Linked DNA regions of Homo sapiens. The protein of the gene in region 1 purifies or fractionates together with the protein of each later gene. This does not show direct contact. Each region holds a gene or a part of one and is shown on either strand. Other genes may lie near its edges. The genes, in order: WBP1, ATP12A, SLC39A11 and KCNIP2.

What was found.
Region 2: the proteins of WBP1 (region 1) and ATP12A purify together in Homo sapiens (affinity purification with mass spectrometry; 3 studies listed by BioGRID and IntAct, with this or other methods). This does not show direct contact.
Region 3: the proteins of WBP1 (region 1) and SLC39A11 purify together in Homo sapiens (affinity purification with mass spectrometry; 3 studies listed by BioGRID and IntAct, with this or other methods). This does not show direct contact.
Region 4: the proteins of WBP1 (region 1) and KCNIP2 purify together in Homo sapiens (affinity purification with mass spectrometry; 3 studies listed by BioGRID and IntAct, with this or other methods). This does not show direct contact.

Annotation. Positions count from the first base shown.
Region 1 is NC_000002.12:74,453,587-74,461,399, forward strand, and holds WBP1 (WW domain-binding protein 1), read left to right. Parts: upstream 1-4,851; 5' UTR 4,852-5,016; coding exon 5,017-5,085; intron 5,086-6,056; coding exon 6,057-6,159; intron 6,160-6,286; coding exon 6,287-6,463; intron 6,464-6,634; coding exon 6,635-7,095; 3' UTR 7,096-7,295; downstream 7,296-7,813. Other genes in the region: INO80B (INO80 complex subunit B), read left to right, coding at 1,531-1,588, 1,820-2,012, 2,232-2,350, 2,517-2,686, 3,748-4,278; MOGS (mannosyl-oligosaccharide glucosidase), read right to left, coding at 7,689-7,813.
Region 2 is NC_000013.11:24,697,388-24,704,409, forward strand, and holds part of ATP12A (potassium-transporting ATPase alpha chain 2), read left to right. Parts: intron 1-1,270; coding exon 1,271-1,463; intron 1,464-3,359; coding exon 3,360-3,535; intron 3,536-4,547; coding exon 4,548-4,684; intron 4,685-7,022. UniProt on the Homo sapiens protein: The catalytic subunit of a H(+)/K(+) ATPase and/or Na(+)/K(+) ATPase pump which transports K(+) ions in exchange for Na(+) and/or H(+) ions across the apical membrane of epithelial cells.
Region 3 is NC_000017.11:72,844,671-72,851,692, forward strand, and holds part of SLC39A11 (zinc transporter ZIP11), read right to left. Parts: intron 5,135-7,022; coding exon 4,964-5,134; intron 1-4,963. UniProt on the Homo sapiens protein: Zinc importer that regulates cytosolic zinc concentrations either via zinc influx from the extracellular compartment or efflux from intracellular organelles such as Golgi apparatus. May transport copper ions as well.
Region 4 is NC_000010.11:101,833,799-101,840,820, forward strand, and holds part of KCNIP2 (A-type potassium channel modulatory protein KCNIP2), read right to left. Parts: intron 6,074-7,022; exon of another isoform or gene 6,043-6,073; coding exon of another isoform or gene 5,955-6,042; intron 626-5,954; exon of another isoform or gene 572-625; coding exon of another isoform or gene 469-571; intron 1-468. UniProt on the Homo sapiens protein: Regulatory subunit of Kv4/D (Shal)-type voltage-gated rapidly inactivating A-type potassium channels. Modulates channel density, inactivation kinetics and rate of recovery from inactivation in a calcium-dependent and isoform-specific manner.

The DNA.
Region 1 (7,813 bases):
AATAAATGGTGAAACTGGGATTTGATAATAGGCTTGTCTGACTCCAAAATCCCTTTTCATAATCACATACTACATGACTTAATCCTGGATTCCCCAATATAATTGCTCATTGATTCTTGATAATTTTATCACTGAAATGTAAGAGACTTTTCACTGCTGTTACCTTGCTCAGACACTCATATATATTTAGATATATGTATATAGGTGTTATTTTCTAATTATAAACGTGATATATATTGGCTGTAAGAAAATACATTACATACCTAAATAGTGAAAGTTCCTCAACCCCAACTTCTACAGTTAACCAACATTAACAGGTATACATTCCTCAATTTTTTCTATGTATTTGCTAGTATATTATGCTTTTAAAAATCAGATCACATAATCTTGAAATTTACTTTTTTTTTTTTTTCTTTTTTTTGAGACGGAGTCCCGCTCTGTCGACCAGGCTGGAGTGCAGTGGCGCGATCTCGGCTCACTGCGACCTCCACCTCCCGGGTTCAAGCGATTCTCCTGCCTCAGCCTCCCGAGTAGCTGGGACTACAGGCGCGTGCCATCACGCCGGCTAATTTTTTTTTTTTTTTTTGTATTTTTAGTAGAGACGGGGTTTCATCGTATTAGCCAGGATGGGAAATTTACTTTTCTTATTTCGTGTATCAGCACATACAAACCTACCTGTTTTTATGTCTTTTTTAAAATGAGGTAAAATATACACGTTTTATACAAAATTCAAAAGGCACAAGAGGGTATAATCATAAAAAAATAGGTCGCCATCCACCCTTGTTCTCTAGATGCTCATCAGCAAATGACTCTTACCAATTTCCTAGATAGCCTTCTGGGGCGCCTCATTTCTTTTCCAAGCTGCTTAACATCCCACTGTATGGATACACCAATTCATCAGGACACTTAGATTGTTTAAATTCTGTGTCAATCTCATTAATTACTTACAACTCAACTTTTCTTAGCAATATGGTGTTCCGCATTGTACAGCTGCACCGTAATTCATTTATTCATTTCCCTACTTATGAAAATTGAAGTTTAAATACCTAAACTGCATCTGCTCTTAGGGCACTCGTGCTGTTTAACCATTTCGGCCATTTTGTCATCAATATAGTTTATGTATTCCTCCACCCAACTGTGAGTTCCTCAAGGACAGGGGCGGTGTTCATATTCATCTTTGCATCCTCTTAGACTAGCTTCCCGCACTTGGTCTAGTGTATACATTCACCAAACTTGTGTTCAATAATTGACTCATCCGCGCTGAGTTCTGAAAGCTAGCGTGGGGAGGCGGAGCCAGGGGAAAGCCCTGCCCATTTGGGCTGTCCCGACCTCAGAGGGACCGGAACGTTCGTTGGAAGGATCCTCGTTTCTCAGGGACGATTTTGGACGCGAAGCGTGCCCCGCACAAGGATGGTTGCCATGAACCGGAAGTAACTGGTTGTTTTGCTGGCTCCAGTTTTTCCGCGGGGCGGAAAAGGCGTGTCTGCGTGTGTCCCAACCATTTCTAGTCCCCTTTCCTCGCAGGACCTCATGAGTAAGCTGTGGCGGCGTGGGAGCACCTCTGGGGCTATGGAGGCCCCTGAGCCGGGTAAGCGCGAATAGATCAAGCAATTTAGGTCGTGTTAGAAAAGAAGTCCCGTTCTTGCTCCTCGGAGAGTCCAGGGTACTTCGGCCACAGGTGGCAAGGAGAAAGGCGGTGCTGTTGTTATGGTAACAGCGAGTACTGCGGGAAGGGTGGGATCCAGTAGGGGCTTAGGTTATTCAGGGCTTCCCCTGCCACCCTCCGGCCAAACACTGTCGACAGGCTTTCCTTCCACAGGAGAAGCCCTGGAGTTGAGCCTGGCGGGTGCCCATGGCCATGGAGTGCACAAGAAAAAACACAAGAAGCACAAGAAGAAACACAAGAAGAAACACCATCAGGAAGAAGACGCCGGGCCCACGCAGCCGTCCCCTGCCAAGCCTCAGCTCAAACTCAAAATCAAGCTTGGGGGACAAGTCCTGGGGACCAAGAGGTGAGGCCAAGAGGGTCATAGTTTTATAAGGGGAACTTTAGGAGCAGAGATAGTAGTTAGAAGCCGACTGGGCTTTCTAGAAGACCGAATGGACACTGTGACTTCAGGGTCCAGATTTAGGCAGCAAGAGTCTAAGAGGGTGGGGAAAGTTGGGTGTAGCTACGGAGTAGGAGGAGGAGACGCTTGCTCATTTTAAAGAGTAGTGTTGCTTCTCTGCAGTGTTCCTACCTTCACTGTGATCCCAGAGGGGCCTCGCTCACCCTCTCCCCTTATGGTTGTGGATAATGAAGAGGAACCTATGGAAGGAGTCCCCCTTGAGCAGTACCGTGCCTGGCTGGGTGAGGATCTGGAGGTGGGGAAACTGGGTTTCTTATTATACCCGCCTAAAGAAAGAAGGTTGGTTCTGAAATGGGTTAGGATTTTCCATGTCCCAGTATTAACTCAGCCAAATTAGGGTGCCCCATCTGAACAATTCTGTTTTTCTTTCTCCAACTTCCTTCCCAGATGAAGACAGTAATCTCTCTCCCTCTCCACTTCGGGACCTATCAGGAGGGTTAGGGGGTCAGGAGGAAGAGGAGGAACAGAGGTGGCTGGATGCCCTGGAGAAGGGGGAGCTGGATGACAATGGAGACCTCAAGAAGGAGATCAATGAGCGGCTGCTTACTGCTCGACAGGTATGTTGGTTCATTGTTTATTCACTCACCAAATGTATACAGTATTGAGAACTCTCCACGACCCACGCACTTTGCGTGGCATTGGGGATATCGATAGTAGAGAAAAGACAAAGTTTCTGTTCTCCTGGAGCTAGTATTCTAGTGTGTGTGTTGGGGGGCTGGGAAGTAAATAAGTAAATAATTTCAAAAAGCTATATGGTTTATGACAAAAAGAAAAGGGTGATGAAATAGAAAGTGGCGTAAACAAACAGATAGAAATGATGGAAGAGAGACATTAGGGTAGTTAGAGAAGGCTTCTTTGAAGAGATAACATTTGCAATACCAGAAGAGCTTTTGAGCAGAGACCAGCAGGCGCACAGACCTTGAGACTGGAACATGTCTAGCAAAGGAGAAGAAAAAGTGGACAAGCCACTGAAGGGCTGTACGCAGAGAAGTGACATACTTGGTTTACATTTCAATAGATTACTTTGGCATCTTTGTAGAGAATGAATCTTCGTGGAGACAAGAGATAGAAGTATGGAGAACAACTAGGAAGCTGTTGAAGTAATCAGCTGAGAGGCAGTGGTTGCTTTAACCAAGACGAAAGTGGTGGAGATGGAGAAAATCAGATGAATTATGGCTATATTTTGGAAGTAGATACTTGTGGGGAGGGGAATGGAGAGAAAATATATCAAGGCTAAGCCTGGGATTTTGGCTTGAGCAGTTATCCACCTGATACTCTCTATTGAGATAAGATTAAAAATAACAACAGACCTCTGGGAAAGCTGGTACAGTTTTGGTGCACAGGTCAGGCAGGTAACATTACTGATGCTTCTCCCCTTGAGAGATAAGGACCTAAAGCTAAATGTCAGGAGATCTGGGAGGAGGCAGTATTTATGAAGAGGAACCTATGGAAGGTGTCCTGGAGAGGGTGCTCATTAATTAATATCCCGCCTCCGAAGGCCTGCACTGCTCAAGACCCTGCCTTCCATGTCCCTTCTTTCCCCTCCCCCGATCTGGCCGACCTCGCCTCTCCATCTTCCTCCATTTTCAGACAGCACCCCGTCTCTGTCTCTCCCTAGCGAGCTCTGCTCCAGAAGGCGCGGAGTCAACCTTCCCCTATGCTGCCGCTGCCTGTAGCTGAGGGCTGCCCACCTCCCGCCCTCACAGAGGAGATGCTGCTGAAGCGCGAGGAGCGGGCGCGGAAGCGGCGGCTCCAGGCGGCGCGGCGGGCAGAAGAGCACAAGAACCAGACTATCGAGCGCCTCACCAAGACTGCGGCGACCAGTGGGCGGGGAGGCCGGGGGGGCGCACGGGGCGAGCGGCGGGGAGGGCGGGCTGCGGCTCCGGCCCCCATGGTGCGCTACTGCAGCGGAGCACAGGGTTCCACCCTTTCCTTCCCACCTGGCGTCCCCGCCCCCACGGCAGTGTCTCAGCGGCCATCCCCCTCAGGCCCGCCGCCGCGCTGCTCTGTCCCCGGCTGTCCCCATCCGCGCCGCTACGCTTGCTCCCGCACAGGCCAGGCACTCTGTAGTCTTCAGTGCTACCGCATCAACCTGCAGATGCGGCTGGGGGGGCCCGAGGGTCCTGGATCCCCCCTTTTGGCTACGTAAGGCCCTTAACCCGGACTCTGCGCCCCGTCCCATGCCCGCTCTTGAGTATCTTCCCCACCCTATTAAATTACATCCGGTGCTTCGGCTTGTACAGAACTGGGGGAGTGGGATGTTGTGGGCAGACCAGTCTCCGGTATACACGTATTTTGCCCCTGTCGGAGCTTGCGTCGATGCCTGGGGCTTGGAAACCACCGCAAAAAACCAGGCTGCAAACCAGCGGACCGACTTTTGGGACTCCGCCTCTTCCAGCCGGGATTACCTGGCGTGCTTCGGCCTTTGGCGTCATTCCGAAAACATACCGCAAGCCAATCAGCGGCAACCTTGCTCTTCGGGGCGGCTGTTCGTTGGTTGATATGCCAGAGCCTGTTCTGTTGTCTGTATTGGCTATTGCCGCTGTCAGTCAGGGCCGTGGGTCGAACCTTCACCTACTCTTTGTCTGTACAAGCTCTTGTTGTCTGGGTGAGCGGCGGAGGCGCTGCTGTGGATTGGTCACAGGGAGAAACCTCTGATCTGTTCCTATTGGCCCGTCCGTCAAGGGACGATGATGATTGGTAGGGCAGAGCAATCTGAGTCCTAGTTGGTGGAGTTCTGCCCGGATGGAAGCTCCGGCCGCGGAGTGATGGTGGCCTCAGCGAAGATGGGCCGGGCAGGGACCATGGCGGTGGCAGCAGAGGTGGCAGGGGCGGGGCGGCTGGCGGTAGAGGAGGCTGTGGTCCTCAGGGGGCTGTAGGTGGAGGTATGGCTCGGGCCAGCAGCGGGAACGGCAGCGAGGAGGCCTGGGGGGCACTTCGGGCGCCGCAACAGCAGGTATCCCAATAGCTCCAAAACCTATCACGACAGCCATTTGTCTCTTTCCCCTTTCCTTGTCCCTTCCTTTTGGGGGTGGGGGAGGAACTCACGGAGCCAAAGGTACTGTGAAGTTCCTAAACATGTCTCTTCCACTCTTTGTCTAAACTTTGTAACGTAGATGCAGCTGACTTTGCCTGTAGCCTCATAGAACCCATCCCATGGCTGCAGTGGAAGCTTGCGGTGGCTCTCCAGTGACCAGAGGCATAGTGAGGTCCCAGGGAGGCTCCCTCTGTCTTGCAACAGTTATTTGTGATCTTTTTCTATGTGCCTATTGTCACAACAGAGTCCGGCAGCGTCTTCTCTTGAGGGAGCAATTTGGAGAAGAGCTGGAACCCAGACTCGCGCCCTGGATGCCATCCTTTATCATCCACAGCAATCCCATCTGGTTGGGAGCACTGCTCTGGGTCTCACACTGCCCCTCCTCTATCCTAGGGAGCCTGAGGCCCAGGGGTGGAAAGATCCAGTTGCGGGTGGGGGGTAGTGAACCGCGCAGGATAATGAAAGCAACTTGCTTTGGAAATGACCTACCGCTACCCGTTGTCTGAGACTGAGATTATCTCAGACTGTCTTCTGGCTTCTGCCAAAACACTCCCTTAACAGAAAGCACCGAGGGGATGGGGGTAGGGGGGTTGGGGAGAGTGAGGCTTGAGTGTGAAGGAAGTCTCATATATGCAGAGCTGAAATCTCCCTCTTTGTATGTCCACACTTTTGTCTTGTTCTCTAGACTGATTCTTGCTATTCCAAATCCTCTTCCACGTTGACAGCCCTTCAGATATTTCAACACTCCTCTCAGCATCCTCCACTTCCCCCATCTCTCCAAGCTGAACTTGGTTCACAGGGTGGGATTGTGTATGTGCATGCAGGAGGTGGGGGTGGACAGTGCCCTGGGCTGGAATCCCCCTTAGTTCTAAGTGCCTCCTTGCCCGCAGCTTCGAGAGCTGTGCCCAGGAGTGAACAACCAGCCCTACCTCTGTGAGAGTGGTCACTGCTGCGGGGAGACTGGCTGCTGCACCTACTACTATGAGCTCTGGTGTAAGTCTCCAAGAGGGCTATTTCCAGGTCCCTGTGTCCACCCTCCCTTGGACCTCAGAATTTCGGCCTTCAGGGCCCCTTCTCTGCATGAAAGATGCCTGAGTTGCTCCCTCCTTGCCTCTTGCAGGGTTCTGGCTGCTCTGGACTGTCCTCATCCTCTTTAGCTGCTGTTGCGCCTTCCGCCACCGACGAGCTAAACTCAGGCTGCAACAACAGCAGCGGCAGCGTGAAATCAACTTGTTGGCCTATCATGGGGCATGCCATGGGGCTGGTCCTTTCCCTACCGGTTCACTGCTTGACCTTCGTGAGTGACTTGATGCCCTGGGTCAGCTACCAGTGGCCCTCCCCAAACCAGAACCCCAAATCGTCTCACATTCCCTTTTCCACACATTTCAAAGTATTTTTCCCTAATATAAAAACTAGCACCCTATACCTGGTTGTCTTCAACCAATCATGCCAATTTTCTCCCCTGCAGGCTTCCTCAGCACCTTCAAGCCCCCAGCCTACGAGGATGTGGTTCACCGCCCAGGCACACCACCCCCCCCTTATACTGTGGCCCCAGGCCGCCCCTTGACTGCTTCCAGTGAACAAACCTGCTGTTCCTCCTCATCCAGCTGCCCTGCCCACTTTGAAGGAACAAATGTGGAAGGTGTTTCCTCCCACCAGAGTGCCCCCCCTCATCAGGAGGGTGAGCCCGGGGCAGGGGTGACCCCTGCCTCCACACCCCCCTCCTGCCGCTATCGCCGTTTAACTGGCGACTCCGGTATTGAGCTCTGCCCTTGTCCTGCCTCCGGTGAGGGTGAGCCAGTCAAGGAGGTGAGGGTTAGTGCCACCCTGCCAGATCTGGAGGACTACTCCCCGTGTGCACTACCCCCAGAGTCTGTACCGCAGATCTTTCCCATGGGGCTGTCTTCCAGTGAAGGGGACATCCCATAAGTAGTTTTGAGAGGGTGGATGGGTTACTTGCCCACCAGAAACAGCCCTAGTCCCAACTCCTTGCGTTCCTTTGGCCCCTCCCTGCCTACCTAGAATCTGCCTGAAAGGGCTGGAGAGGGGCAGTATTGGGGGACTGTGCTAGCTTTACCCCCGCAGGACATACACAGGAGCCTTTGATCTCATTAAAGAGATGTGAACCAGCTACTTGTGGATTTGGGTGGACTAAAGCTCAACTCACTGCATTGCACTTGACCTGACTGGGTTTGAAGGGGACAGGTTATGGCCACTTGACCCCACCTTCCCTGAGGACAGCAGACAGTGCTGAGGCCTGGACTGACCTAAGGCCTCTTGGTGAGGCAAATCTGGCAAAAGCAATAGAGTTCAAAATGTTTTTTCCAATTTATTTAGAAAAATAGACTCTGGATTCACATTCACCCCAGGGCTATGTGGGATGACAGCAAGGAGACACCTGAGATGAAATGAGGAAGGTTTGAATTACTGGTATCCAAGGGGCTGGGGGCAAAAGCCAGAAGCCTTTGTCCCTTCAGAGCCAGAGTGGCATGAGTGTCTTGGCTCCCCTCCTCTCCCTCCCTTCAGTAGTCTTCAGCCATGGCCAGTAAGACAAGGCTGGTCCAGCCGTGGAAAGGGCGGCAGCCCATGCCTCGCCCATCGCGGTCACTGTACTGCTCCCAAAGAAAGCCTGTAGCCTGGTACTGGC
Region 2 (7,022 bases), on another chromosome or scaffold:
CTTTGGGAGATCGAAGAAGGCAGATTGCTTGAGCCCAGGAGTTCAAGACCAGCCTGGGCAATATACCAAGACCTTATCTCTACAAAAAAAACAAAAAACGAAATTAGCTGGGCATGGTGGCACATACCTGTAGTCCCAGCTACTTGGGAGGCTGAGGTGGGAGGATTGCTTGAGCCTGGGAGGTCGAGGCTGCAGTGAGCTGTGATCGTGCCACTGCACTCCAGCCTGGGGCACAGAGTGGGACCCCGTCTCAAAAAAAAAAAAAAAAAAATTTAAGAGAGAAAGAGAGAAAGAAAAAGAAAAGGCCTATATTTTAGAAAGTGATAGAGCTGGGAGGTTTTCTGTTTGGTTTGGTTTTTGTTGGTTGGTTGGTTTTCTCAATGTCTTTACTTGATCATTAAAAAAAGCAGCAGCAGCAGCTGGTAACCCTATTTGCCCTATACTTCTTTTTGTACTCATCTTTGATACCCAGAAGTCTAAGAAATACTGATTTGTAAAGAACTGTTTTACCCAAAATTGTAGCACTTTTCTTTGCAACTTATTTTCTCCCAAACACTCCAGCTTCCTGAGATTCCTCTTGAGTGCTTAGAAGAGTACCTGGCTTATCAGAAGGGCTAGATAAGAGTTAGTCCTTTTATTCTTGTATATCGATTTTTTTTGCATATCTTATTAGGATGGATCTAGAAGTAGAATTGCTGGGTCAAGAGCATTCCTATTAAAATGGAGACTCCTGTGACTCGGCTGTCTTCCTGAAACATTATACGTGGAAGTGTCCACTTCCTCACACCCCGCCATTTTCTATGACATCCAAGCAGGAAAACTGGGTGGACAATGAGGTGAGGAGGTGCAGAAATTCCTGTCGCCTCCTCCCCTCCTGAGCTCAGAATAGTTTGGGTCTGAAAGACGGCTGCTCCCCACAGGGAGGTAGAGGAGGTGAGATGCAGAGGCTCGCAGCCCCCTAACTCTCACGGGCACCCTGGGAGATCTTGTTCAAGGCACAAGATTTCACACGCTGACGGCCACAACTAGCCTGCCTAAAGCAGCCAGTTTTGCTTGAAAGATGAGCTCCACTTATCCAGAGTGGGTGCCCCACTCTGGGCTGGGGCCAAGTCTAGAGCTCTTCGTCTTACTTGGCCACAGAAAGAAAAAGGGCGGAACATGCTGAGGATGCCATTGTGCCTCTTCCTCCTTTACATTTAATGGACCAGTAGAGAAGAAGGAATGCGTTTCACCTTTCTGTAAGTAACACGCTCAGTTCATTCCTTCCCAGCTCTCCATCCACGAGATGGATGACCCCCACGGCAAGCGCTTCCTCATGGTGATGAAGGGGGCCCCTGAGCGCATCCTAGAGAAATGCAGCACCATCATGATCAACGGCGAGGAGCACCCACTGGACAAGAGCACTGCCAAGACCTTCCACACAGCCTACATGGAGCTGGGCGGGTTGGGCGAGCGTGTGCTGGGTGAGTGCGGCGGCAGGGCCCTGCCCATCACCTGGTGGGCACAGAGATGAGGCAGGCGCCTTGAGGACCTGTGACCTAGCCCAGTGGCCATGGCATCCACGTGAAGCATGTAAAGGAGAACATGATAAGCAGGATGGGAACAAGGAGAGGATGCTGTGTGACAGCACCAAGCAGGGTGGGATGGCCTCCAGAGAGGCAAGCTCAGGGAAGACTTTATGGAAGGAGTTAAATTTCAAACTGGGCCTTAAGTGACTGCATTTGAGGGGAGATAGGGGAAAGTATCCAGGGCCCAGGGAACAGCACAGGCCAATCACAGAGGCAGAACGGCGTGGGGCACATTGGGTGCTGCCAGCAGGTGAGATGGCACTGTCACAGAAACAGGGTTCAAGGGCTGGACTGGAGGTCATGAGATGGAGGTCTTGAACATCTGGGTGAGGAGCCAGGTTTCATCCTGCAGTCAGTAGAGAGCACTGAGGGCTGTGCCACTAGAGTGAGCTGGGCAGTCGCAGGGCTGGGGAAGACTTTATGGAAGGAGTTAAATTTCTTTAACTTCTTTAAATGTCTTTGGCGGCAGCAGGGAGAGGAGAGATGCACATCTCCATAGGAAGCAGCTGCCCTTGCTCAGGCAAAAGGGATGGGAATTTTTTCAGGGTGATGGGAATGGGAAGGAGAGATCAGGGCAAGAGACTTCATAGAGGTAGAGTTTGGTAAGATTTAGAACCTATCAGAGAAGGATAATGTTTAAAAATGATTAAGCTTCCCATTTAACGACTAGGAAGAGAGTGATGCCAGTGATGCAGACAAAGTGTCAGGAAGGAAGGAACCTTAGAAATGCAACAGGAGGAGGACCCAATGGGGGTGCCTGCGGTGTTGTCAAAGGGGACAGTGTGTCCTGTTGTCAGCACCAGGGCTGGCGGAATGGTGCCCCATCAGGACCACAGAATGACAAATTCAAGGAAACAGAAGTGTATGGTTGACGATCCGGCTCATTAAACACCATGGAAGTCCTCACCAATACAGATGCAGTCTGTGGAATGTGTGTTTCTAAAGGCTATTGGAGTTGGCAAATCAGATAAAGCATATAAATGAGATGGTGATGCTTTAGGCATCCAATAACCCACAGTACCGGGTATTCTACACGGGATCGATGCCCACTTGCGTTTGATTTCTCAAAGCCTGCTCCATTGACATTTGCAAAGCAGTGGGCCAGGCTGAAAATAAATTGGATGTGAAAGCTGATCACACAATCTTGGAGGTCCCACCAGACACAAGAGTCCCTTCCACCTCAGCCTATGAGAGGCTGATGCCTTCTGAGAAAAGGATGGCTCGGCCCCATTCCTGCTGGCCTTTCTCTTGGGCTTATCTTGATCTAGCACTGAACTTTGTGCCCCTCCGCTGAACCCCCTTGTTCCTTCACATGCTGTTTTCTCTGCTGAAAATGGCCTTCCCACCTCCACCCTCCCTTTTTTCCCTAGAAATCATCTTTGCCCCTCTCAAGCTTCACCTCACATGTGACCTCCTTGGGGAAGTCTCTCCTAATCCTCCAGGCAGCTGAAATGTGTCTCTGCCCTGAGATGTACCCTATGCTTGATCCCTTTAACTCTGTGCCCCGCTAAACTTCAGAAGTCGAGACTGTGTATTGCCCTAGAACTTGGCAATATAGCAAGATATATTTCTAGAACACAGAGCCTAATGAGCTCACAGTGAATTATATTTGGATGAAATATGTCTTTCCTAAAAAAATGCATTATGGAGTTGAAGAAATTAAACAATTCTGGCTTATTCTAATGTATTGGTAAAACAGCAGAGGACCAAGGTGTATGAGCATGTTCTCCTCTTATTTTTTTTCGTTTCCTATTCTAGTTTCACTGACTCACTAATTCATCTGTATTACAGGTTTCTGTCATCTCTACCTGCCAGCAGACGAGTTTCCAGAAACCTACTCATTTGACATAGACGCTATGAACTTTCCGACCTCCAACCTCTGTTTTGTGGGACTCTTGTCAATGATCGATCCCCCTCGGTCCACCGTGCCAGATGCAGTCACCAAATGCCGGAGTGCAGGGATCAAGGTGGGAGTTATTTTCCTGACTCAAGAAGTTCTTTCTTTATGTCGTGTTCCTTTCTAATAATGGTTTTCATAGCAGATGGTCAGTATTTAGGTGTCTTCAAGTAAATATCATAATTCCTATTTTATTTCTAGTTTCACTGTGCTAAGGTTACTGAAACTGTCCCACAAAAAGAAAATGATTGTGTCTATGTGGAATGAACCACATAAACAGTAAATGCAATGAGAAGAATCTCCTAGTGCCTTGAAGTGACCATATCTCGCCCTAGTCCATGGTAGATACTAAAAGGCTTTATTGGCTGGGCGCAGTGGCTCATGCCTGAAATCCCAGCACTTTGGGAAGCTGAGGCAGGCGGATCATCTGAGGTCAGGAGTTCCAGACCAGCCATGGCCAACATGGTGAAACCCCGTTTCTACTAAAAATACAAAAAAATTAGCCAGATGTGGTGGCACACACCTGTAATCCCAGCTACTCGGGAGGCTGAGGCAGGAGAATCTCTTGAATCCAGGAGGCAGAGGTTGCAGTGAGCCGAGATCACACCATTGCACTCCAGCTTGGGCAACAAGAGTGAAACTCTGTCTCAAAAAAAAAAAAAAAAAAAGAAAGAAAGAAAAGAAAAGAAAAAAAGAAAGAAAAAAGGCTTTATTACTCAGTCTTGAGGCTCAGCCCCCATAATCCATGTTCATCATTACTAGGTTAATATTAAGACTGTTGAAGTAACATGGGGCTACCCCCAAGTAGACACTCACCAGCCCTTTCACAAATAAAGTGGCATCAAAGGGGAAGGGCTTCCTTTCATGTCAGAGGAGGAAGCGTATGAAGCTTAGGAGCAAGGGTAGACCCAATGGGATTAGTGTTTCCTCCAAAGACAGTTGTCTCGTAGATCCAGAGCTGCCACTGTAATCACCAACCACGTTCTCCCAGGGCACTACAGAGTAGGTATTACTGAACCATCCCCACTTTGGCCAACCGAGTTCTTCATTACCCGTGGGCCTTCTCGTTGTCTTTGCTCTAGGTTATTATGGTTACTGGTGATCATCCCATCACAGCCAAAGCTATTGCCAAGAGTGTGGGGATCATTTCAGCCAACAGTGAAACAGTGGAAGACATTGCACATCGCCTCAACATTGCTGTGGAGCAAGTTAACAAACGGTAAGCACAGGAGCAGCATAGTAAAAATTCCAGTTTATACCCATGGGGCCCCACTGGCTCTAAAGAGCTGCACTACTTGGAACAAATCAGCTTTTTGCTCTCAGAGTTATGCTAGGCTTGTTTGAGCTATTATTTGCATATCCATGTATTCACTCTAATTTCACTGAGCAGCTAATATGTGCCAGGCACAGTATTGATACCATGAAATGACCCTTTATGTGTTCCTTGTTTGAAATTTCAAAATCCAGTGTGCCCTGGGCACAAAACCTATGTGCCCAATTTAGAATAAGAAAAACTGAAACAAAGGGTTTATGTGAAATTACTTGCCATAGATGCAGTTGCATAATTTGGAATCGTAAGAACCCTGTGGGTTGTTTCATGCACCCTCCTTGGTAAGCATCTTGGGTATTTATCCACCCGGTTTCATAACGTGTAGCTATGTAAACACACCCTTCTTTTTTATTTGGTAATAGATAGAATGGAAGCTTCCTAAGGAAAGTTTTTTTCCTTGTTTCTCCTAATTCTTTTAATCATGTTTATCCTTATTCTTTTAATCATGTTCATCCAACTGTACATTCACTCATGTATTTGTTCTTTCAACAAGTATTTACTGCGTGCCAACTATATACCAGGCAAGACCTGGAACTACAGTAGCAAACTGAACAATACTATCCACACCGTTGGGGAATCTTTCCATCGAGCCAAGGAGACACAAACAAAGCTAACAATGATGTGGCCAGTGTAATGAGGGAGCCACACAAGGCTAGGGAGCTGGGCATGCAGGAGAGTGGCCTGGACTGTGCCTGGTCTCCATGAGTCAAAGACTCCGAATTCTCAGGTTGAGAAGTAATGTTCATTAGCTGGGTTATGTTTTCACGCATGCGGGAGATGAGGGAAAGACCAATGCACCTCTTCAGTTTCCCCAAGCACTTAGGTCTTTTAGGGACACACAGCTGTCAGGTCATAACAAATTACCACGTTAGACAACCAACCAGGGTTCCCGCCTCTGGGCACAGCAGCAGTACCTGAAGTCTAAGAGTCTTGCAGTGCCCTTTAGTATACATAACATCCCTCTATGAAAACAACTTTGGGGCTTGTTTATTTGTTTGGTTTTGTAAGATAATCGGATTATACTTTTTTTCACTTTAGAATTTTAAACAAATTTTGTTTGTTTGTTTGTTTGTTTATTTAGACAGAGTCTCTCTCTGTCACCCACGCTGTAATGCAGTGGTGTGATCTCAGCTCACTGCAATCTCCACCTCCTGGGTTCAAGCGATTCTCCTGCCTCAGCCTCCTGAATAGCTGGGATTACAGGCGCCCGCCACCATGCCTGGCTAATTTTGTATTTTTAGTAGAGACGGGGCTTTGCCATGTTGGCCAGGCTGGTCTCAAACTCCTGACCTCAAGTGATCCACCCACCTTAGCCTCCCAAAGTGCTGGGCTTACAGGCGTGAGCCACCACACCTGGACTAAAAGAAATTTTTTTAAGAGTAGTCAAGTGCAGTAGTGAGAAGAGGGGAAAGAGTAGAAGTTTGATCTGTAACTGACTGTGAACAATCAGTTGAGCTAATTCACTACTACCTTCAGACCAGCCGAGTCTTCTTTTTTTAGATACAAGGTGTCCTGTCAGATCACCCAGGCTGGAGTGCAATGGTGTGATCATAGCTCACTGCAGCCTCGACCTCCTGGGTTCAAGGGATCCTCCCCTCTCAGCCTCCCAAGTAGCTGGGACTACAGGCTTGTGTCACTGCACCCAGCTTCATTTTAGCAGATTTTTTTTTTTTTGAGATGGAGTCTTTCTCTGTTGCCTAGGCTGGAGTGTGGAGTGCAGTGGTGAAATCTCATTGCAGCCTCCACCTCCTGGGTTCAAGGGATCCTCCCCTCTCAGCCTCCCAAGTAGCTGGGACTTTAATTTAAAATTTTAGCAGATTTTTTTTTTTTTGAGATGGAGTCTTTCTCTGTTGCCTAGGCTGGAGTGTGGAGTGCAGTGGTGAAATCTCATTGCAGCCTCCACCTCCTGGGTTCAAGCAATTCTCCTGCCTCAGCCTCCTGAGTAGCTGGGGTTACAGGCATGTGCCACCACACCCGGCTAGTTTTTGTACTTTTAGTAGAGACGGGGTTTCACGATGTTGGCCAGGCTGGTCTTTAACTCCTGACTGCAAGGGTTCTGCTCGCCTTGGCTTCCCAGAGTGTAGAGATTACAGGCGTAAGCCACTGCGCCTGGCCCATTTTAGCAATTTTTAATGAAAGTTGTATATAAGATACCTTATTCCTGCATCTTCTCAATTGCTTCTTTTTTATATTTGCCCTTCCTTCCCTACTTAGGAAGATTTGTTTG
Region 3 (7,022 bases), on another chromosome or scaffold:
AACAAAAAACAAAAAAACAAAAAACATTCATGGGCCAATGATTCAGAAATCTATAACTCTAGCTAGACTTTGCAAGCCAACTCCAAACTCATGTATCCAGCTGTCTAGTCAGTATCTCCATTTGAATGTCTAATGGCAATCAAACCTCACAATCAAAAAACAAATTCCTGATAGTCCCCCTAAAGCCCCTGGAGCTGCAGCCTTCCTCGTCTCAGTTGATGGCAATTCCATCCCTGCAGCTGGGCAGCCCTGAAACCTCCGGGTCCCTCCTGGCTCCTCGCTTTCTCTCATATCCCACATCCAATCCATCGGCAAATCCCATTGGCTCCACCTTCAATCGGGACCCAGGAAGGGATCCCTTCTCACCACATCCAGCACGACCACCTTGGTCTGCACCACTATCATCTTTGATCTGGATTCTGCAGTGGCCTCTACATAGGCCTCCCTGCTTCCATCCTTACCTCTCCTAAGTCCCATCTCAATTCAGTATCTAAAGAGAAACAAACTTTCAAAGCTCAAGTCAAGTCATACACACCCTCTTCAAAACTCTGCAATGGCTCATCACACACAGAGCAAAAACAAACATTCTTATGCCTCCAAGTTCCATCTAAAGGAGGGGCTGACATCCCTGCCCTCACCTTGTACTTCTCTCCCTGCTGCTCACCCTGCTGTGGCCACAGTGGACTCTTGGCTACTCCTTGTGGGGGCCAGACATGCTCCTGCCTCAGGGCCTTTGCACTGGCTGTTCCCTCTGCCTAAAACACTCACTGTTTCCCAGAGATCTGCATGACTGACTCAAATTCAAGGACATCTCAAGGAGCCCCTCCCTACCTACTCTATTTAAAATGGCAATTTCTTCCTCTAACACTCTACCGTCTCCTCTGCCCTGTTGAACTTTTTCTTTTTTTAAATCACTAACCACCTTCTAACACAATATAAAATTCATTTATTATGATGATGTTCATCGACTATCTCACCTTGCTATAATATTGGTTATAGAAGGCCAGAGATCTTGGTCTGTTTTAGTACTGATATAACCCAAGTACATGGAATACAATACTCAAATATAATAAATAAAAGACAAGACTGGGAAAGAAATGTCCCTTCAAACCTCTCCATCCAGTCAAGCCAGCTGTCCTCCAGTTTACTGAAACCAGTGACTATTACCACCATGCTTCTGGTGAAATCTAACTCAATTGAGATTCCTGGAAGGCACTCAATCCTCATTTCAATTTATTTTTTATTTTACTATTATTTTTGAGACGGAGTCTCGCTGTGTCACCCAGGATGGAGTGTGGAGATAAGAGAATCCATCTTTCAAACCAATGAATCTCTCTCTCTCTCTCTCTTTTTTTTTTTTTTTTTTTTTTTTTTTTTGAGACAGAGCCTTGCTTTGTCGCCCAGGCTGCAGTGCAGTAGCATGATCTTGGCTCACTGCAACCTCTGCCTCCTGGGTTCAAGTGATTCTCCTGCCTCAGCCTCCCAAGTAGCTGGGATTACAGGCATGTGCCACCACTCCCAGCTAATTTTTGTATTTTTAGTAGAGACGGGGTTTCGCCATGTTGGCCAGGCTGGTCTCAAACTCCTGACCTCAAGTGATCCGCCCACCTTGGCTTCCCAAAGTGCTGGGATTACAGGCATGAGCCACTGCACCTGGCCTCAATCCTTATTTGAAAAAATACTTTTGCATCACCATAGAAGTGACAAAGGCTGAACTTAGACTTGGAAACTCCAAAGACACAGAATAGGGTCTCCTGTCAGGGAAGAAGTAAGATTTTAATTTATGCTCATTTAAGATCATCAAATATTGCTGTCATTCCACACATCTTCCTCCTGTTTCTGGCTTTATTCCAAGTTGTCACTGGAGTCAACAAACATTTGAGAAAGTAAACTCTGAACCATCCTGGCCTTCCATTGGGATGAGCCAGGAAATAATTCCAGCTGAGCATAATGAATCACCCAAGTACAGTGGCAGGTGTGGTATATAAAAGGGTCCATTAGAGGAAAGTTGGATACTCATTCCATTGCTATAAAGTCTGGACCTTAGACCACATTTTTGTTCTTCAGAGAAATAGTTGCCGTAATACACCTCAGTGTAGTTACCTTATTTAACACTAAACCCACTGGGCAGATCTTTACTCTTCCTCAATTGGCTAAAGAAGGGGTCATAAATGGCAGAAAGACAGCTACTATTATGAATGAAAAACAAGTAACCTCTCTTCTCTAACTATTAGCACTTAACAGGCTACAAGTTGCTGTCAGGGCTCCTAAGTAGTCCTCTGCAGGGGACCAAGGGGTCTTTCAATGACCTCTTTAAGATACGGGGTGGGCACGAGCAGGGTCTTCCACCAAGGCTAACCCACTTTGGCCATCTTTGTGCAGTGAGGTCCATATAAGACCCCATCTTTATCTCAAGACATACTGAATACCAAGATCTAGAAAACCAACAGGGTCAGATGCTGTGGCTCATGCCCGTAATCCCAGCACTTTGAGAGGCTGAGGTGGGCTAATCACTTGAGGCCGGGAGTTTAAGACCAGCCTGGCCAACATGGTGAAACCCCGTCTCTTCGAAAAATACAAAAATTAGCTGGGCATGATGGCACACATCTTTAATCCCAGCTACTCGGGAGGCCGAGACAGGAGAATTGCTTGAACCGGGAAGTGGAGATTGAAGTGAGCTGAGACTGCACCACTGCACTCCAGCCTGGGCGACAGAGCGAGACTCTGTCTCATAAAAAAAAAAAAAAAAAAAATTGGAAAACCAACTAAAAAAAGCTTATTCATAACTCAAAGAAAAGGGTCAAGAGGGGAATGAGGGAGACACATAAACTGATGAAAATGTTGGGAAAACTGGCCTACCTATGATCGTATGATAGACATTCCTAAGATTAGGATAGAAATAACAGAGGAATGTGCTTCTTATCTAGAGAAATATCTGAGCTTAAAAAGTAATTAAACACATAGTGCTTTCGGCAGATTTAATATATACTAGAATATATAATATGTATTAGAATTTTCACACTTTAAAGACGACAAAAAAAAGTCTTCATTGTGCAAGCAAAACAATATCAAGTTATACAGAGGAACAGACTCACTTTGGCCATGCTTTTTGCTTCCACAATACTAAAGCCAGAAGACAAGGGATCAACATCTGCAGAAGCTTTGTAGAGAAAAATGTCATGACTAGAAAGCTTTGCCCAGCCAAGTTCTTGCTCCTGTATTAGAGTAACAGATTGGCACCATGAACTCTGCAAGGACTCAGAAAATGTATCACCCAAGGATGCTCCCTGGGGAAGATTATTGCTCAAACTCGAATTCCCAAACAACAAAAGGTGGGTCAGCATGTTTAAGATCTCAAGATCGAGGAAATCATGGCTGAAAAGGCAGCAGGAGTATCATCGATGCCAACAATGCGCTCGTAAGTCCCAAGCACTGTACTGAAAGCTGTATGTATATTTAGCATCTCATTTAATTCTCTAAGTAAGCCACTTGTGGCATTATCCCCATTTCTTAGATGAGAAAACCAAGGTTCAGGGAGTTCAAGCAATTCGTCAAGATAACCTCCTTAGGAAGTGAGAGAGTTGGAATTTCAAAATGCATCCCAAATTGCTCAGGTTCCCTCAGTTTATTTATTTTTAAAAATATCTTTATCATTTCCTATGCTTAATCATGTTTTCTAGTTGCTCTAAAAGAAACATTCATTGTTTTTGAAATAAGGCATTAATATGTCCTTTTTTCCAATTAAAATACATCTAAAGACATAAAACAGGCCAGCGTGGTAGCTCACGCCTGTAGTCCCAACACTTTGAGGGGCCGAGGCAGGTGGATGACCTGAGGTCAGGAGTTCAAGACCAGCCTGGCCAACATGGTGAAACCCCATCTCTACTAAAAATACAAAAAATTAGCAAGGCATGGTGGTGCACACCTGTAATCCCAGCTACTCAAGAGGCTGTGGCAGGAGAATCACTTGAACCCAGGAGGCAGAGGCTGCAGTAAGCCAAGATCGCTCCACTGCACTCCAGCCTGGGGGACAGAGCAAGACTCTGTCTTAAAAAAAAAAAAAGACATAAAAGAAATTACTCTAAAATGCTAAATAGGAAAGGATTGGTAAGAACATTTCAGAAAGATGCCCACATAAAGAAGGCAGGTAAGGCAATTATCAGTGCCAAATTATACTGAACTCAATAGACTTGACCCTCGAACAATGCAGACGTTAGGAATGCTGGTTCCCTGCGCAGTAGAAAATCTGCAGAGAGTTTTTGGCTTCCCCAAAACTTAACTATGAATAACCTGCTGTTGACCAGAAGTCTTACCAATAACATAGTCAATTAGTACATATAGTGTATGTTATATGTATTATAAACTGTATTCTTACAATATAGCAATCTCAAGAAAAAATGTTATTAAGGAATTCATAAGATAACATATATTTACTATTCATTAAGTGGAAGTGAGTCATCATAAAGGTCTCATCCTCATCCTCTTCACATTGAGTCAGCTGAGGAAGAGGAGGGGTTGGTCTTGCTCTCTCAGGGGGCAGAGGCGGAAGAAAATCTGAGTGTAAGTGAACTCACGTAGTTCAGATCTGTGTTGTTCAAGGGTCAACTATGTTTTCAAATAGCATTAAGCAGAACCAGAGATACCCAGTATTTATAAAAGATACCCTCCACAGCAATCATGTAACAGTTATGAATTTATGCTCCAAATAACTTGGTAACAAATATGTAAACAAAAAGGAAGTAGAAGTTGTTTAAACTAACCGGAATGGGAAGTTTTCACATATGATGATCTATCTATGACGATCAAAAAATAAAGCCAAGAAAGATTTGTACTGCCACCTTCACTCCTCTCCAAAAAGGACCCACGTCACAATTGCCCCTTCCCCTTTTCCAGCCAGACAACTGTGCTGACAAATGACTTTACCTTCAGGCAGTGGCTGTCACGCTCACGGGCAAGACCTCACCTGGAACGTTGTGTATAGTGATGGCCAAGATGAGCAGTGCGATCCTCCTCCAGCTGCTGCCGCCGGGCTGTGCCAGATTCCCTCGAGAAGGCACAGGGACAGCAGGACCCTCTGGAAGGCCAGTGGCTGCCGCCTTCTTTCTCTGATATGCCTCACCATTCTCACTCTTGTCTGAGCAAAAAAAAAAAAAAAGAGAGATGGGGAAAGACAGCGCTTTGAACATGTGCACGTTAACTCTCCAGCAAGCTACAGCAGGAAGAAGCTTCTTTTTCTTTTTTGAGACAGGGTCTTACTCTGTCACCCAGCCTGGAGGGCAATGGTGTGATCACAACTCACTGCAGCCCCAACTTCCCGGGCTCAAGCCATCCTCCCATCTCAGCCTCCCAAGTAGCTGGGACTGCCATCTTCACTCCTCTCCAAAAAGGACCCACGTCACAATTGCCCATTCCAAACTTCCTGTAGACTATGCATGCTTCTGTGTGTTCTCTCATTCACTCAGGCATCCATTCATTCAGCGAACAATTCATTGACTAGGCTGAGCATGGTCACTCACGCCTGAAATCCCAACACTTCGGGAGGCTGAGGCAGGCAGATGGCTTGAGCCCAGGAGTTCGAGACCAGCCTGGGCAACATGGCACAATCCCATCTCTACAAAAAATAAAAATAAAGAATTAGCTAGGCGTGGTGGTATGCACCTGCAGTCCCAGCTACTTGGGAGGCTGAGATGGGAGGATGGCTTGAGCCCGGGAAGTTGAGGCTGCAGTGAGTTGTGATCACACCATTGGCCTCCAGCCTGGGTGACAGAGTAAGACCCTGTCTCAAAAAAGAAAAAGAAAAAAAAAATCACTGAACAGGCATTCAGTGCCCAATGCATAGGTACCAAGAAGGATAAAAAAGATGAAGATGTGGTATCCTAGCAATGCCTGTTTAAGACAAGCAATGTTGAGTCATGATTAGAGACACAGATGCCAGAACCATGCTGCCTGCTTCCCTTCCTGACTCAGCCACTGGCCAGCTGTGTAGTGCCAAATAAGTTGTTTCACCTCTCTGTGCAGTGGTTTTCTGATTCGTAAAACTAGAATAATAGCATTACCTATGTCACAAGCGTTTTGTGAGGATTAAATGCAACAATGTCTGAAAGTACTTAGAATGTACTAAGTGCTGATTGTATTGATGGTTATTGTTAGTATCATGTTCCCTCTCCCATAGCCGTACAGAATTACATAATATGTGACCCTGCTCTCCTGGTCACACTGATTTATGGGAACCAATTCAGACGCCTGGCTCAGCCAATCAGAATCCCTCTCCAGGGAGAATTGGCCACTCCAACGTGCAAGCTAAATCTGAAAAATCACGTGATGCGCGAGCAGCTCTGCCACAATGGAACGAGGGAAGCGGCTGGACAGACAATCAGAAGGAATCAGATATACATCAACAAGCAGAGATGGGAAACCATGCAGCTAGACAGGAGAGAGAAGGGCAGAACTGCAGCCCACGTGCCACAGACATTCATGGGCCATCCGTAGCACCCAGCCCTTGGGTTTTCTGAGCAAACCTTCCTTTTAAAAATGCCTTTACAAATTGGCTTATATTGGAAGAATGTCATTCTTAGAACCTTATTCTAAATATCCATGGTCCCCTGGGCTATTTGTTTATTCATAATGGAGCCAAATTGTGTGGATTTGAAATTGGGAGGACAAGAGTGGGAGAGAGCATCCAGCTTTCAGTTCACAGCATGGGATGGATTTGTGGGGAAGGCTTTCTAGAGGAGATAGGTCTTGAGTGAATCTTAAACACGTGATGGCACAGACAGAATGAAGGGTCCCTTTATTGGGAGAGAAAACCCAGCAAGCATAACTCAGGTGTCTGTTAAATTAAATAAGCAAAAGGCCATTGGTCTGAGGCTGTACTTTGAGTTGCTTCGCAGTGAACTACAACCTAACTTAGTATGTATACAAATGAAAATCTCATTAGGAGTATATATTTTTTGTAATAGGATAGCTAGATCTCAGTCAATCACAAGCGGCTGAGCTTCAACCAATCACAGGCAGCCAAGCTT
Region 4 (7,022 bases), on another chromosome or scaffold:
TACACTGCACAGATGGAGGTGTGGAGAGGATGCACAGGCACCGTGGTGGGCCCCTGACTCCAAAAAGGACCCCCCAGAAATCCGTTGTTATCTCAGGATCCCTAGAACCTCCCTCCTCTACTCTAGACACTCCTTCCCTATCTCCAGACCCCTCCTGGTATCGCCCAGAATCCCCTCACCTCCTCATCTCCACACCCCAGTCCTCCCACACTGCACCCCTCATCACCTCCTGACACCTTGGTCCCCCAGATTCCCTCCTCCCTCCATATCTACTCCTTGAGGCCTCCTCTTCACCCCTCCCAGATGTTGTATCCCCCAAGCACCCCTACTCACCTCCCAGATCCCTGTGCCATCACTCACCTGCTCATCCCTGCCCCAGTCATGAAGACAGACAAACACCCTCCCTAGTGCTGTGGGGCAGCTGCCCCACCAGCCAGCAGCTCAGACATGCCAGGACACCTGGATTACCTTCCAAGGAGACAGGCTCAAAGAGGCCAAACTGCTCCAGGACCTTGACAAACAGAGCGAGGACCACGAGCACAGCAACCATCTCCAGCCCTTCCAGGTTCATGGTGGGCCTGGGGCATGGCCCCTACAGGGCCCAGGTTCAGATACGCCGGTTCACCGCCTCACACCACCTCCCCCTCAGACTCCCCAGCCTGAGTAGGACTGCCTGCAGCCTCCCTCCCACTCTCCCTCCCAGGATCTCCTTCCTCTCCCCCATCACCCCGCCTCTGCCCCACAAGCCTCCCAACCACAGCCGCCGCCTCTTCCTCTTCGCAGGGCCACCTCAGCCTTTGGACTGGCACCTCCTTGGGAACTTTTGGCCAAGATATGGGCCAGAGGGAGGGAGCAGTGACCCGCCTCTGTCCCTGAGAAGTGCTTCCCCTAGACATCCTGTGGCTACTCTGTGCCAAAGGGAAGGGGCAGAGGGAGGAGCTGAGCTTAGGGAGAAGGCAGGGAAGGGCAGGGTGTATGTGCATGAGAAACCACCATCTGCACATGTATAAGTAATCAGATGCATGGGTCAGAATATGTTGTGGTGGCCAGGTGTTTTCCTGTGTGTATATTCCTGTGTTTGTCAGTATGGCAGTGCATATGTCTCCTCTTATGTGTGTCTTTGTGTGCTTACACGTGACTGTGCACCTGTCACAGAGGTGTGTGTTTGGCGTATGGTTATGCATTTTGACTCTTGCGTATATGGGTATGTGAGCTGGGTGTCTATGGTCTGCATGTGTAGGAGTGTGTTGAAGTATTTGTGAGTGTGCATGGGGAGTGAGGTTCCTGTGTTTTAGTAGGGTTGTAGGATGTGGGTCTGAAGTTTGTTAGGTATGGATGTGTTGTATAATTTGGAGGGTGGGTCTACTGTTTTGTCATTGTATTGGCATGGAATTGTATGAGAATAATGGCGGAGAAGGCAGTGACCTCTCCTGCTAGGAGGATATCACCAATATCGATTTGGTTGCCATGGAGACTGTGAGGAGGGAAGCACTCTCTTCCCACAGGCCACAGGCAGTGAAACTGAGGCCCAAGGGAGGGGGGATAAGATACAGTAGTAGCCTAGGCAGAAAAAGGCCACTTAACCCCATCAGGACCCTCTGGGGAGGGGACTTACTGCAGCTGCCTTTGGGGTCAAGAAACCCAAGCTTCTTGGGAGAGGAGGGGGGACTGTGCTGGCTCCGTATGTGGCTGGGACCTCATCCGGGAGATGCTAAAGCCCTGCCTGCTCCTTAGGAACTGTTATTGAGCTGATGGAGAAGCCCAGCTGCTGTAGGAGGGAAATCTGAACCTTCTAAGGGAGCCACCCCTCCCAGCCAGCATCCCCGGAGTCCCTCCCTCCTCTTCCCTGCTTCTTCTTGGTGGGGTGTTTGTGTGTGTAAAGGGGTGGGGAGAGGCCTACAGAGCCAATGAGCCACAAGACTAGGGCCTCTGGGTTAGTAACACCATTACTACCGCTGCTGGCTAACGGTGACTGAGCATTCACTATGTACTAGATAATGCACTATGTGCTTACAGGTGTTGTAACACCGAATTTTCACAATAAGCCTATGAAGGCATACTATTATCCTCATATTACAGGTGGTGAAACTAAGTCAAAGAGAAGTTAAGCAAATCTTCAAGATCAGAGCTTCAATTTTAACCCAGTCTGACTCAGCCTTCACTCTAAACCACCACACTACACTGGCTCCCTTCTTAGAAAGCTGGCCCAGCCAGGAGGCCCAATTTAGGGGGATTGGCCCCAGAAGGAGCCCTCCCTCTTGTCCAGCTCTGGGATGACTGTGTCTCAGCCCAATTTGTGGGGTGGGGGCCAGTCCCTAAGGCCCCAGTCGAGGTTGGCTGATCTGCAGTTCTATACAGCCACCACCGGGGGGCACGCGTCCAACCTCACACAGTACCATACACCTTCCTTCTCCCCGACCTGCCCCATCCAGGGAAGAGGTGGGAAGATGACGCTTCACACAGGCTTTTTTTTCTCTTTTTTTTTTTTTTTTTTTTTGAGACAGAGTCTCGTTCTATCACCCAGGCTAAAGTGCGGTGGCGCTAGCGATTCTCGTGCCTCAGCCACCGAATAGCTGGGATTACAGGCGTGCACCACCACGCCCAGCTGATTTTTATATTTTTAAATAGGGTTTTGTCATGCTGGCCAGGCTGGTCTCGAACTCCTGGCCTGAAGTGATCTGCCCCCGTCGGCATCCCAAAGTGCTGGAATTCCAGGCGTGTGCCACCGCGTCTGGCCTCAAATAGGCTTGGTCTGTTCCACTCCTTTCCCCTAGGAAAAAGTCTATTTAGGGATTGCTTGCCAATCCCTAAAGGTTGGATCAGGAGTCCCAGACCAGCCTGGGCAACATGGCGAAACTCTGTCTCTACAAAAAATTAGCCTGGGCTGGGCAAGGTGGCTCATGCCTGTAATCCCAGCACTCTGGGAGGTCGAGGCAGGTGGATCACGAGGTCAGGAGTTTGAGACCAGCCTGGCCAAAATGGTGAAACCCTGTCTCTACTAAAAATACAAAAATTAGCCGGGCGTGGTGGCACACACCTGTAATCCCAGCTACTTGGGAGGCTGAGGCAGGAGAAGTGCTTGAACCCAGGAGGTGGAGGTTGCAGTGAGCCGAGATCACGCCACTGCACTCCAGCCTGAGCAACAGAGCGAGACTCTGTCTCAAAAAAAAAATAATAATAATTAGCCTGGCGTGGTGGCACACACCTATAGTCCCAGCTACCTGGGAGGCTAAGGTGGGGAGTTTGAGGCTGCAATGAGCCATGATTGTGCCACTGTACTTCAGCCTAGATGACAAAGTGAGACCCCATCTCAAAATAAACAAATAAACAAAGATAATATTTATCCAGCACATTTTGTGTCCTGGATACTTTACATGTAGTATCTCACTTAGTCCTCATAATAAACCTGAGAGGTAGGATCTATTATTCCTGTTTTTACAGCTGACATGGTCAGAGTGAGTGATAGTATACCCATTTTGCAGATGAAGGAATTGAAGCTCCCCGCCAAGATAAGCTCCCTGCTTATCTTGGGAAAAAAGAGTGATTTTTTTTCCAAGATAACAGCTGACATGCTAATTAAGAATGAGTTTGGCTGGGTGCAGTGGCTCACGCCTATAATCCCAGCACTTTGGGAGGCCGAGGCGGGTGGATCACAAGGTCAGGAGTTCAAGACCAGCCTGACTCACATGGTGAAACCCCGTCTCTACTAAAAATACAAAAATTAGCCAGGCGTGATGGTGCTTGCCTGTAATCCCAGCTACTCAGGAGGCTAAGGCAGAATTGCTTGAACCTGGGAGGCGGAGGTTGCAGTGAACTGAGATCACGCTACTTCACTCCAGTCTGACTGAAAGAGCAAAACTCTGTCTCAATAATAATAATAATGATAATAATAATGAGTTGTTTAACCAGAGTCAGTGATCTGTCAGCTCCCTCAGGCAGTCTCTCCAATATGTGCGGGGTGTCAAGGAATCCTAGGGCCTACAGCTTAGTTTAGGTAAGGGAGCTATGGGTAATAAAATCAAAAAGGGTCAAATTCCATGAAACCTTGAATGCCAAGCCAGACTATTTGAATGGAAAGGGGCCCCACAACAGCCCCTTCTTGCTCCCTGCTACTGATAACTTGCAGCCAGTTGCCCTGGACCTGGCCCTGGCCCTGGCCCCTCCTTTTCCTAACTCCCACTCTCAACTCTCAGAGACCTTGACCCAGCCTTGCCAGGACTCATGGTCCTAAATCAGCCAGGCATCCTGTGGCAGAGTCTGTCAGGAGTGAAAGGATGAGTTATTTTTCCAGGCTGTCCCTTCTCCCCACTCAGAGACTTCTCAAGTCCTCGGGTTCAGTGAGAAACTTGCCAGATCCATCCTCCCCAAGCATCCCTGTGCCACGAATTTAGCTCTTCACTCAAAGTAAAATCTCTGTGGAAGCAATTTGGCAGAGTGGGAACTCAAGGGAAAACCATCTCGAGGCATGAGGTGGGCCTTCCCCAGATCCCTCAAATCTTACCACAGAGATATTCCTATCATTTATTTATTTATCTCCCCCAGTTCAAATGTGAGTAACACTGCCTTGTGGGGGAACCCACTCTATGCAACTGTCCCACCTTCCCCAGTTTAGCTTTGTCCCACCCCCCACCGCCACTGTTAACCCAGCCAGTGAAGACCTCAAAGCCCTTCTCTCAGTCCCCCAGACCCACACCATTCCCAGCTAGGCCAAAGACACTGCAGCCCCCAGCTGCATCGAGTGATTAATGACCTCCCTAGACGTTGGGGCTATTTTGGGTCCTGGAAGTCATGCCTGCAATGACTGAGAGCTGGCCCTGCCTGGCTCCAGCCATCTGTCACTGGAGACAGGCCCAAGCAGGGGGCTTGGAGGTTGTATGCTCCCCAGAAGATTTCCAGGTATGGTTCTGGCTCAGGACCATCCATCTACCCTCCTTTTGGGGGACAGATGGCAAGGAGAGGCCACAGGCCCTATCTATACTCCAGGGGCTCAAGTGGATACCCATGGAGAGAGCCAGAAAATGACAGATCTCAGAATGCCACAGGACCAGGTTGTTTTGGTCTGTTTGAGGTCAGGTACAGAGGAGACGTTGCGTTCTATGGGCCCTGCCCAAGCAGTCATAAGGAAATGCAAGTGGAGATGTGCATACACCTCAGCAGTGCCGTGGGATACTCAACAATCCACACCTCATACACTCCACAAATTTCACACCAAGGTACAACCTCACGAAGGCTACACAACCAACTTAGAGGCTCAGGAACCCTCAACCCAGTCCTAAAGTACAGAACTCCAGGTACACACAGTCTCAGTGTCACAGAATCCCAGTGATCACAACCCCAGGGAGACACAGACTCAGCCATACATAGCCCAGTGATGCACAACTTAGTAATGCACAATCCCATTAATACACACTCCCAGAGAGAGAGAAAACAGAGACATACAATCCTTAAGCCACACAAGTCTATCAGTCCCATGTCATGTATGAACTTGCTAGCTGAGTTCATGTTGGTCTAGGCCCATCTCAGGGTTTTTTCCTTCTGGACACTGAACCCTTCATCTTAAGACCCCTTCAGCCAAGAAATGCAGGAAAGGACTGAACTTTTTCCCTGCTCTGCTGCAGGCCTCCTCCTTTCATCCCTGGGAGGCGCCCTGCCCCTCAGTTAAGGCCCCCTCCTCTGCCTTCGGTGAGAAGCCCCGCCCCCTCCACCATTGTGAGGGACCTTGATGCCCCTCTCCTTTCCTCTTTGAAGAGCGCTGTCTTCCTCCTGCTCAGTAAGGAGGCCCATCCCCTGCTCCGCTTCTGTCCAGGATCTCGTCTTGGAAGCCCTTTCCTTGGAGGGATGTTGCTCCCTCCATCTATTTGAGGGGCCCTTCCCTCCCTACCTCTGCGGAGCTCCTAACCCACTTCGCTCACTTTTTGAAGGATCCTGCCCCTCCCTTCCCTTCCTCATCATACCTGGGGACAGCGACCCAGTCACCAGCTGGTAGAGGGATCGCGCTGCCTGCCCCAGCGGGCTCCGGCACCTGCGGGGGCATCGGTTCATGGTTTGGCGGCGAGCTCGGCGTCTAAGCTCCACCCCCAGGCCCCGGGGCGGTCCGGTCTCCGCCCTCACCCGGGTAGGCCCGCGTGGGCGGCGCGGGAGGGCCGGCCCGGCAGGCATAGGATCGAAACCCTGGAGCCTTCCCATGTTCTCCTGGCCGCACGAGAGGAGCTCACCCTGGCCCCATCATGTGAAGCAGCCGCCCCCAAAGTTCCTGGACGGGGGGGGGGGGTGGCGGGGAGGGGCGGCGCGGACTCAGCCTTCTCAGGGAGCATTTTTCTGGGTTCTGGCGGGGAGGCCAGGCAGGCACATGTGGGTTTTGAGAAAAGAGCTGGATGGGGAATGAACCGTATCTTTTATTGCCCCCTTTCAGCCCCCCTTTCTCCGCCTGTCGCACTCCTCCCCGCACCCTGCACCCCGCCCCCACCATTTTGGCATAAAGAGCCGAAGGGGTAAGAGGACAGAGTTGTCATGGCAACTCCCCACACTTCCTGGGCCAATGGAAGAAAGCCAGGAGGAAGGAGAAAGAGGCCAGTGTATTGGGGTGGCAAAGAAGAGGCAGCAGAGTTGTGCCCCACTGCCTTCTGTCTCCTGGCTCCAAATTCCTTGCTCTCATAACTGTTTCTATTTGTGTTTGTCTCGGTGCGGCAGGTTCACAGACTACCACCATACGCTGGCTACAGCCGAATGCTTCGAGAAGAGCCCCCCCCGCACCCCCCCCCCACTTCGGTCCCGCTGCGCCCCTTTCCTGGACTCCGGACTCATCTCTATCAGGTTAGACCCCAAGTAAACACTTCCAGGACTCTCTAACGCCTTAAAATTCCTGGGAAAGCCTACGGGAGAGATATAGTCCCGCTCTTTCGACTGGGATCCCGCATGATTGGTTGAAAACCCTACATTTAAGTGGTGAGAATGACCTCCTAACTCTGGGCAAATCTTGTCCACTTGACGGCGACTATCCCCACCGCAAAGCAGCTCCGTGC